Linked DNA regions of Homo sapiens: region 2 is linked to region 1. The links come from fine-mapping of genetic effects on gene expression. A gene starts in region 1. The other region holds a variant in brackets. All regions are shown on one strand. Distances are from middle to middle. Region 1 holds the start of WNK2 (WNK lysine deficient protein kinase 2). Region 2 overlaps WNK2 (WNK lysine deficient protein kinase 2).

Region 1 (4,243 bases):
ATCCAGTGACCTGCCAAAGGGCATATAGCCAGTGCTGTGAAGTCCTGACTTCCAAGGTCTGTCCAAGGATCCCTCAGGCTCCATCTGCCAGGATCCCAGGAGCTGCTCCTGAGCCCAGCCTGAGATTCCTTGCAGAGGAAACTGTGACCTGTCCACTACTGACTTAGCTGTGTACCCTAATGGTCATGGGTTGGCAGAGAGAATGAGCTCTCCACCATGGGAGGTGTGTAAGCAGAGATGCGTGAATTCACCCCAAGGGCTCAGAGAGCACACAGTACTCTCTCAGGGACAGGCTGTCCCCCACTCCCCACAGCCTGGGCTGCTCCCTGCTGATTTGTGGGTGTAGCCATCCTTTCCCACGCATGTGTACAAGTGTGGGTGGGCAGCAGCCATGGGTGCTGATGAACCTTCTCCGATGCTGGCAGGTATTTTGCCCACACACTGCCAGTGTGGCCTGTTGGGAGCAGGAGGAGGCCAGATAGGTGTGTGCTGGTCTCAGAACACGCTTAGCTCTGTCCCATCCTGGTTTTCCCTTGGATAGGCTTGAACACACCCATCATGAACAGGTCTGTGGACTTGGTGCCCTTCCTAGATTGACTGAATCTACAAGGAATTGGCAGCCTTTTAAGGTGGGCAAGTCAGGATGATCAGCCCACTCTGCAGGGCCAGATACTGAGGCTCAGGAAGGACCAGGACTTGCCCAAGTTCACTCAGCTGGTTAGGGGCAAGGTTGGGGGGTCTTTAGCCTCCAAAGGGAAGACAGAAAAGATCCTTTTCCACCCCTGACCTCTACCTGGAAGACTCCTGCCCCAGGAGATGCAACTTAGATCCCTGTCCCTCAGGCCTCTCTGTCCTGCAGAGCTGGCGTCTGCTGTTTGGCCTCCTCCTCGTGTGAGCTCTGGGCTCATGCCAGCGGACTTGAGCCCCGGAATGAATGCCTGTCTCACACGGTAGATTAGATTATATAAATAACAGGCAAGTGCCAAATGCATAGCCCTACACCTAGCACACTATTTAACCACTGGCTCTCTGGGGAGAAAAGTCCTGATTTGAGGTGTTTGCCAATTTCCGCAGTGTAAATACTCCCAGCATTGCTGACTTCAGGCTACAGGGTGGCATTGCTGAACCCAGAGCTGGGAAGGGATGTTCACTGTTGCCCCTCACAAATTAGTTTCAGCCAGTGCCAGTGCCCAGCGGGGCTCCAGGAAGTCCTGCTTCTCTGGGTAACAGTTGGCCTGGCATATTCTTCCCTCTACATTGTGAAGGTGAGATATCGCCTCTGCTGGCTTTTATGCCACATGAGTTATTTTGTGCCAGGGGCTCCAAGGCCTACAGGCCCACAAGCATCTTTTCATCTCTGGAAGTGTGTGTGTATCTGATGGGGGTGCCAGCCCAGTGGGATGGGGACTGAGATGAGAATACTCTGGTATCTCCCTTGTGCCTCAGTTTCCTCACCTAGGATCATGGAGGCTGGGGTAAGGGTGAAGTGTTAGCTCAGGGCATTGCCTGGAGCAGGGCTCAGAACTTAGCAGTATGGTTACTGACACAGGTCACCTGCTGCATTAGGGCCAGAGACGCCCAAGAGAGGGCTTGTCCGTGGGGGTCTAGAGGAGGAAGGAGCTAGAGATCATGGAAGACTTCTCGGGAGAGGTGGCATCTGGCAGAGGTGGGAAGGAAGAACACTTTGGGTCAAGGGGCTTCTGGAAGCCTCTCCATATCCCATCCAAGGCATTCCAGCTCAGCTTCGGTCTTGAAAGTTCTGGGATTTAGAGCATATAACTTCTGCCTTTGGCGCCTCAGTTTGCTCTAGACTGTGAAATGGGCATAATGATCACCAGTGCCTCCCTGGGTGATGATGAGGTCCTCATGGTTCCTGGTGGTGAAGTGAGGGCAGGAAAGGACACGCTGAGCCCCACCAGGCTTAGCCCCAGGCTGGGCTCCCGAGGGCGGCGGTACCCCTGGTCCTTTTCTTCCTAGCCTGCCCATTCTGTCCTGGCACAGGGCCTTGAGGTCTAGCGCGCCGGGCTGCGGCGTGCTGAGGCGTTGAGCCTGCTGCCTCCTCTCAGGAAGAAACGGGGTCCTCCGCAGCTGACAGCCCTGCGGGGCGTTCCAAAGAACTTCAGAGGACAGGAGCGCTACCTCGAGCAAAGAACCGCGGGTGGGAGCCCAGGTAGCCGGCCCGCAGGTGGCCGCGCGCGCCTGCCAGTCAGCCAGCCCGTCCGCAGCCAGGTGGGCGTGCCAGGCCCAGCCCCCTGCGCCGGTCCGGGGCGGGGCGAACGGAGCCCCGCCCTCCCCGCGCGCCGGGTCGGAGCCGGTGCGGGAGCGGAGCCGCGCGAAGCCGGCAGGAGCACGCGGGAGCGCGGCCCCGCAGTGGCCCGGCCCGAGAGAGCAGCGCGCAGGAGCTGGAGCGGCGCCACGGCCCCCACCCCAGCGCGGACCTCGCCCGGAACTCGGACCCCGTCCTCGAAGCGTGATCTCTCCCGCCTCGCACGCCCTGGCCGCCGGGCCGCGGGCATGGACGGCGTCCGCTCGCCCTGTGAGTGCCGAGCCTCCCCTCAACGCCGCTCGCCGCCTTTGTGTGCGCGCCGCGGCGCTGCAGCCCCCTCCCCGCGCGCCCCTCCCGCGCCCCGGGCCCGCGTCCTTTGTGGAGCCGCCGCCGGGCCACTGCCTTCCTCCCACCCCCGGGCTTCCCTATCCCCTTTACAGCTGCCTCCGGGACAGCCTAGCAGAACCCTCCTGGGCCAGGGCTGGGCAGGGCGCGAGATCCCTCTGCCGGCCTCCGGGGCCCTCAGGGACACCCTAGCAGGTCCTCTCTCCCAGGGTTCCAGGGACACCACAGGCCCGTCCCTCTCCGCAGCCTGGGGCTGAGCAGGGCACGGACCCCTCCTCCCCAACCCAAGCCTCTGGTCCCGTCTGCAGCCCCCCTTTCCCAGGGCCCCCAGAGACGGCCCCCGCAGGCTCTCTCCGCGGCCGGGGCTGGGCAGGTTGCGGGCTTAGGGCGGCGTTGTCTCATCCGGCGGCCTGGGCAGGTGCGGCAGGGCCGGCGCTCACGCGGGCCTGTGTGTCCTTGGCCCACAGAGATGGACGGCGATGGCGGCCGCCGAGACGTCCCCGGCACGCTGATGGAGCCCGGGCGCGGCGCGGGGCCCGCGGGCATGGCGGAGCCTCGGGCGAAGGCGGCGCGGCCGGGGCCCCAGCGCTTTCTGCGGCGCAGCGTGGTAGAGTCGGACCAGGAGGAGCCGCCGGGCTTGGAGGCAGCCGAGGCGCCGGGCCCGCAGCCCCCGCAGCCCCTGCAGCGCCGGGTGCTTCTGCTCTGCAAGACGCGCCGCCTCATCGCGGAGCGCGCCCGCGGACGCCCCGCCGCCCCCGCGCCCGCAGCGCTGGTAGCGCAGCCGGGAGCCCCCGGAGCCCCCGCGGACGCCGGCCCCGAGCCCGTGGGCACGCAGGAGCCCGGCCCGGACCCCATCGCAGCCGCTGTCGAAACCGCGCCTGCCCCCGACGGCGGCCCCAGGGAGGAGGCGGCGGCGACCGTGAGGAAGGAGGATGAGGGGGCGGCCGAGGCGAAGCCTGAGCCCGGGCGCACTCGCCGGGACGAGCCCGAAGAGGAGGAGGACGACGAGGACGACCTCAAGGCCGTGGCCACCTCTCTGGACGGCCGCTTCCTCAAGTTCGACATCGAGCTGGGCCGCGGTTCCTTCAAGACGGTCTACAAGGGGCTGGACACGGAGACCTGGGTGGAGGTGGCCTGGTGTGAGCTGCAGGTGAGGGTGCCCCAGCCCGCAGGGGGCTTTCCGCAGGGTCTGTCCGCGAGTGCGTCCTTGGGCCTGTCCTTGCTCCTGCGCCTGGCCTTAAGAAGCCCTGGGGGCGGCGGGGCTCCATGTGTGTCACCCTCTGTGTGGATGGCTGGCAGGATGCATACCAGGTGTGCGGACGGCATGTGGGGCCTGGCTGTGTCCGTGCGCAGGTTGCGGTTTGTGAGTCAGCTGGTGGCGAGGGCAGGCCTCTGTTGTGCGTTTGGTGTAAGTGTGCACGCTGTGGGCGTAGAGAGGGTCCTGGAGAGTGGGCCTCGGAGGCTGTGTCTCTTAGGCTGCTGCTTCTCCAGTCCCGATGACCTACTTTAATGACCCAGGGAGTCTGGACTGTTGTGTCTTTGCAAAACAGTGTGGAGGCTTCAAGGCCCGGTGTGTGCAGTCAGAGTGTTTTGGGGGCTCTGGGCTGCCCATAAATTAGTACTTTCCTGTGT
Region 2 (4,243 bases), 82 kb after region 1:
GCGGGGCGTGGCGGGGGTGTGGTGGGGGTGGGGGCATGGTGGGGGTGTGGTGGGGGTGGGGCCGTGGCGGGGGTGTGGTGGGGGTGGGGGGGAGGGGTACTTGGGGGTGTGTGGGGGTGTGGCGGGTGCACGTGTGGGTACGCCCGTGGTGGGTGCTGATGCTGCCCCTTCCAGGTGTGCAACACTGGGGACAAGATGGTGGAGTGCCAGCTGGAGACGCACAACCACAAGATGGTGACCTTCAAGTTCGACTTGGACGGGGACGCACCCGATGAAATTGCCACGTATATGGTGAGGCTGGGTCTGGGTGGCTTGGCTCCCGGTGTTTCTTGGACACGTGTGGGCCTGAGCAGAGCGCCACAGGTCACATGTCGAGCCTGGCCTTGTGTGGAGGTGTCGGTTGGCCCAGGGGCTTTTCGGGACAGTGCTGACCTTTTACGCCTCGGGCTCTTCCCCACACTGGGCGGAAACCCCTTGGGTTTGGAAGAACAGCTTGAAGGATGTTCTAACCATTCTAAGATGCTGCTCCCTGAGGGCTTCTGGAGCATCTGAGCCCTTCCTCCAAATAAAAGGAAGCCTTGTGGGTAGGTTCCTTGAGTGAGGCACGGGAGGGCATCCCGGAGTCTGATGTCCTGTGGTCCTTGCTTAGAGCTTCCTCCAGCCTCCCCAGCTGGAGTGCGGGCTCTGAGCCCTGACCCATGTCCCATGTGCCCACCCAGCTCTGCCTGCATCTCCCTCTGGAGCCACCCCTCCCTGCCTGTGCAGACCAACCTGAGTCCATGAGCACCTTGTAGGCCTTCACAGCCCCACACCTGTGGTCCCCAGCACCTGAGCCAGGCTAGGAGTGGGGATCGTTTTCGGGCCCTCAGAAACTCTCCAGCTGAAAGCACGCACGAAGAAACATGGAAAGGATGTACATGTGGTCCTCAAATTTCCTGGTGCATCCGTGACTGCCTCCCAGGAGAACATTCTCCCCAGACCATTATTCCTGCATCAGTGAGGTTTAGGGAGCCAGGTCCTAAAGGGGCCAGCAGCACACTGGACAGTGTTGTAGCGCTCACTCCAGATGGCCACCAAGTGCCTGGAGTAGGCCGGCATGAGTAGGGAATAGAATATACCACTCAAGTTAATATCATAGATTGCCCCACGTGCCTGCCTGCGGCTGCTGCATTGCACATCATCAGAAAGCTGCCCCCTTGGGCTGCATCCCCCTGGCCACCCCTGCCCTGGCTTCGTGAAAGCCTCATGTGGGCTTTGCAGGGGGAAGCCCCTGGCTTTCTGCTCCTAGGGAGCAAGTCCCTGCCTTAGTGTCTGCTTTGCAGAGACACCTTGGACAAAGCCCTCCCAGATCCCAGGTCCAGAGCATAATCCCCCGCAGCATTAGAGAAATTCTTCTGACGCTTGCTACAGTGGTCGGGAAGACTTTATTCAGGACTGTGGCAATAAGCGAGAGAGAATGAGTTTAACTCCAAATGCAGCAGAGACCACAGGGGATTGGTAGCAGAGGAGCAGTGTGGTGATGGGTGGCTGGAAAATAGCTAAGAGGAGACATCAAGGTCAGGGATTCTGGAGAAACCCTCGTAACAGGATCCTTGCTGGGGGTGGGTGAGAGGCTTTGTTCAACCTCAAAGGTGGGAGATGAGGAATATGGTCAGATACAAAGGCTGGGAATTCTTTCTACAACTGGCTTAGGCTGAAGACATGATGGGGCCTAGTCAAGCCTAGTTGGAGGGTCAGAGGCG[T/C]GAGCTGCGCTTTGGTCAGGGAGGAGTCTTTGTCAGCAGCAAGCAGCTGGTTCGTCAGCGCAGCACAAACACCAGGTCCTCACTGGGCCACTGAAACTGGAGAACATTTCTTCTCTCATCTTACTGTGTTTTAAACCTGTGTCTTGTATTACTTTATACACATGTGTTTCAAACATGATAAAGCATAATAATAAAGTGAACACCCGTGAAGTTATCACTCAGCCACCAGCTGATGCTGCATGTGCGGCTGACGCTTCCAGTGCTTGCCTGCCCGAGCAGGAAGCCACACATGCGACATCAGCCACATCAGCCTGTGTCGTGTCCACTGGCCCCCTGGTTTTCAGTCTTCTTGTGTGTCTCTGTGTGTGAGTCTTTGTGAGCTGCACACATGTAAGTCCTGCACAGTAAGCAATGGGGCTATCTTTAGCTGTGTGCTTTGTAAAAATAGCATCTTCTCAGCCTTGTTTTTTTCACTCAGCACTCGGATACTCCTCTCATTTTATTGCTTTTTCTGCCATCTTAGTAAACCAAGTCACCTAACATACCTGTGTGAAGTAAGCATGCTACAGATATACAAATTTGGTCCATAAAAACAGCCCAGCAGCCCTCCTCCTCACAGCCCATTCCTATCCCAGGGACAGACTGGCTCCAGAGGTTCGAGTTGAAGGGTGGGTGTGTGGCCTGTGGGACAGGCGCTGTTTAGACAAGCTTCTGCCCGCCCTGTGGACTGTCTTTCTGTGAGTGTGAGGTACCAGCTGTCCCTGAATGTCCCATCAGTGGTTAGAGGTCGGCAGGCCTTGGGTTCATCATTCTGACCATGACGACCTTGCCAGCCCCTTAGTAAAGGTGGAACTGCAGAAGTTTCATTTAATTGGCGTGGATTCTAATGCCAGGTTTTACCTGGACCTTGTATTTTTAGATTTTTATTTTGTTTTCAAGTTAATTTTATTCTCAACATACTTGAAAAGAAACATAATAGGAAAACATTTTCTAGTTGCAAAGGGGTTCTAGTTCAGTTTTGTTTAGTGAAAATTTCACAAAATTGGAACGTTGCTTAAATTCTCGTATGTGGCACTCCAGTCACAGCTGGCTGGATGTTCCAACTTTGGCCACAGTGTACTCCTCTTAGACAACATTGCAGTCACATGTTACACTAAATTAAGTGGTGAATCACGGAACACAGCACAAGCCAGCACTTTGTCTGGAGGTGTATGCAGGTGGTGCTCCTGGGGTTGGGGTCTGGGGTGCCAGGGGAGTGTGGAGCGCAGAGGAGCTCTGCTTTTCAGCCAGCTGTTTATAGTAGGGCAGATGTGCCCATCCTAGAAGGGATCTGAGACCACAGATGCCCCAGGCAGGGCCTAGAGCATCTCGGTGACTGCAGAGGTGTCTGCCTGGGAGGAGGTGCCATGGCAGGAAAGGGGCAGGGTCTGGACCCCACTGGGTGGTGGCACAGGCTGACCTCTTCCATTGGTTATGGTTTTATGAGATGCACAGCATTTTCTCTGCCTGAATGGCCGAGGATTTAGCCAGAGCCGGTGTGAGCCCAGGGCCACATGCCCACTGTGAAAGTTGGAGACTGTGGACATCTCCTGAGCCCCTGGTCTGGAGGCTTCGTGGCATTCAGGCTGTGGTGTGGGACCTCCCCTCAGCCATGACAGGAGCTGCTCGTTGGACATCAGGCCACGCTTGCCTGTGTGCCCGGGCCATAGTTGAAGGTCAAAGCCTGAGGCTGGGAGAGCAGGGGGTGCGCAGACCGACAGGTGACATATGGCCATCCTGCTATAACCTTCCCGTCCCCCTGTTGCTTTCTGTCCCCCACAACCTCCTGCTGGCTGGAACCTTTGCCTTCAAATCCATCCTTCTTGTCTGTCATGACTGCCTGGGCACCTGTGCCCAGATGGACCCCCTCCCCTCTTCCCAGTCCCCGTCCTCGGCCCCCTGCATCCTATGCACTTACCTGTTCTGAAGATGGCTGGACCGGCCTCAGGGTCTGTAACCAGCTCCAGCTGGGGCAGGGCATTGCTGGCCCAGGTCCCATGCTTGGAGGAGGGAGTTGCTTCTCAAGATGAGGCTGCTCTCCTCCCATCCTGGGGCCATCCATGTCACTTGCTGAGCTGTCCAGCCCCTGTCTTGGGGACTGCACCCTTTCACCATTCTTCCCTTGGGGCCTGGTACAGGGTAGACATCCGTCAATCCAGATGAAGACCTAGGGTGGTCTTGGCCTTGCAGCTGGTCCTCACTGGCAGTATGTCCCTTTGCAGGTGGAGCATGACTTTATCCTGCAGGCCGAGCGGGAAACGTTCATCGAGCAGATGAAGGATGTCATGGACAAGGCAGAGGACATGCTCAGCGAGGACACAGACGCCGACCGTGGCTCCGACCCAGGGACCAGCCCGCCACACCTCAGCACCTGCGGCCTGGGCACCGGGGAGGTGAGGTTGTGAAATCCGGGGTGGGAGGTGGTGAGAGTGCAGTGGCTGGGCAGGTGGGCGCTGCAGCTC

The links. PIP is the estimated chance that this variant, and not a neighbour inherited with it, causes the effect. A credible set is the group of variants that fine-mapping cannot tell apart.
Region 2: its variant is the best candidate, but not a certain one, in a credible set for the expression of WNK2 in esophagus muscle (GTEx, PIP 0.51).

What each region holds. Positions count from the first base shown.
Region 1 is chr9:93,181,850-93,186,092 of GRCh38, forward strand. It overlaps WNK2 (WNK lysine deficient protein kinase 2), which reads left to right and starts at 2,290. Exons shown (of 30, transcript NM_006648.4): 1 at 2,290-2,536; 2 at 3,079-3,761. The coding sequence starts at 3,081.
Region 2 is chr9:93,263,743-93,267,985 of GRCh38, forward strand. It overlaps WNK2 (WNK lysine deficient protein kinase 2), which reads left to right. Exons shown (of 30, transcript NM_006648.4): 16 at 175-291; 17 at 4,004-4,174. LOC124902214 (a long non-coding RNA gene) reads right to left here. Exons shown (of 2, transcript XR_007061668.1): 1 at 3,700-4,243; 2 at 1,406-1,838. Among named protein-coding and RNA genes, the nearest start is that of WNK2, 82 kb to the left of the region's middle. The variant T/C (reference allele first, on the strand shown) is at 1,743.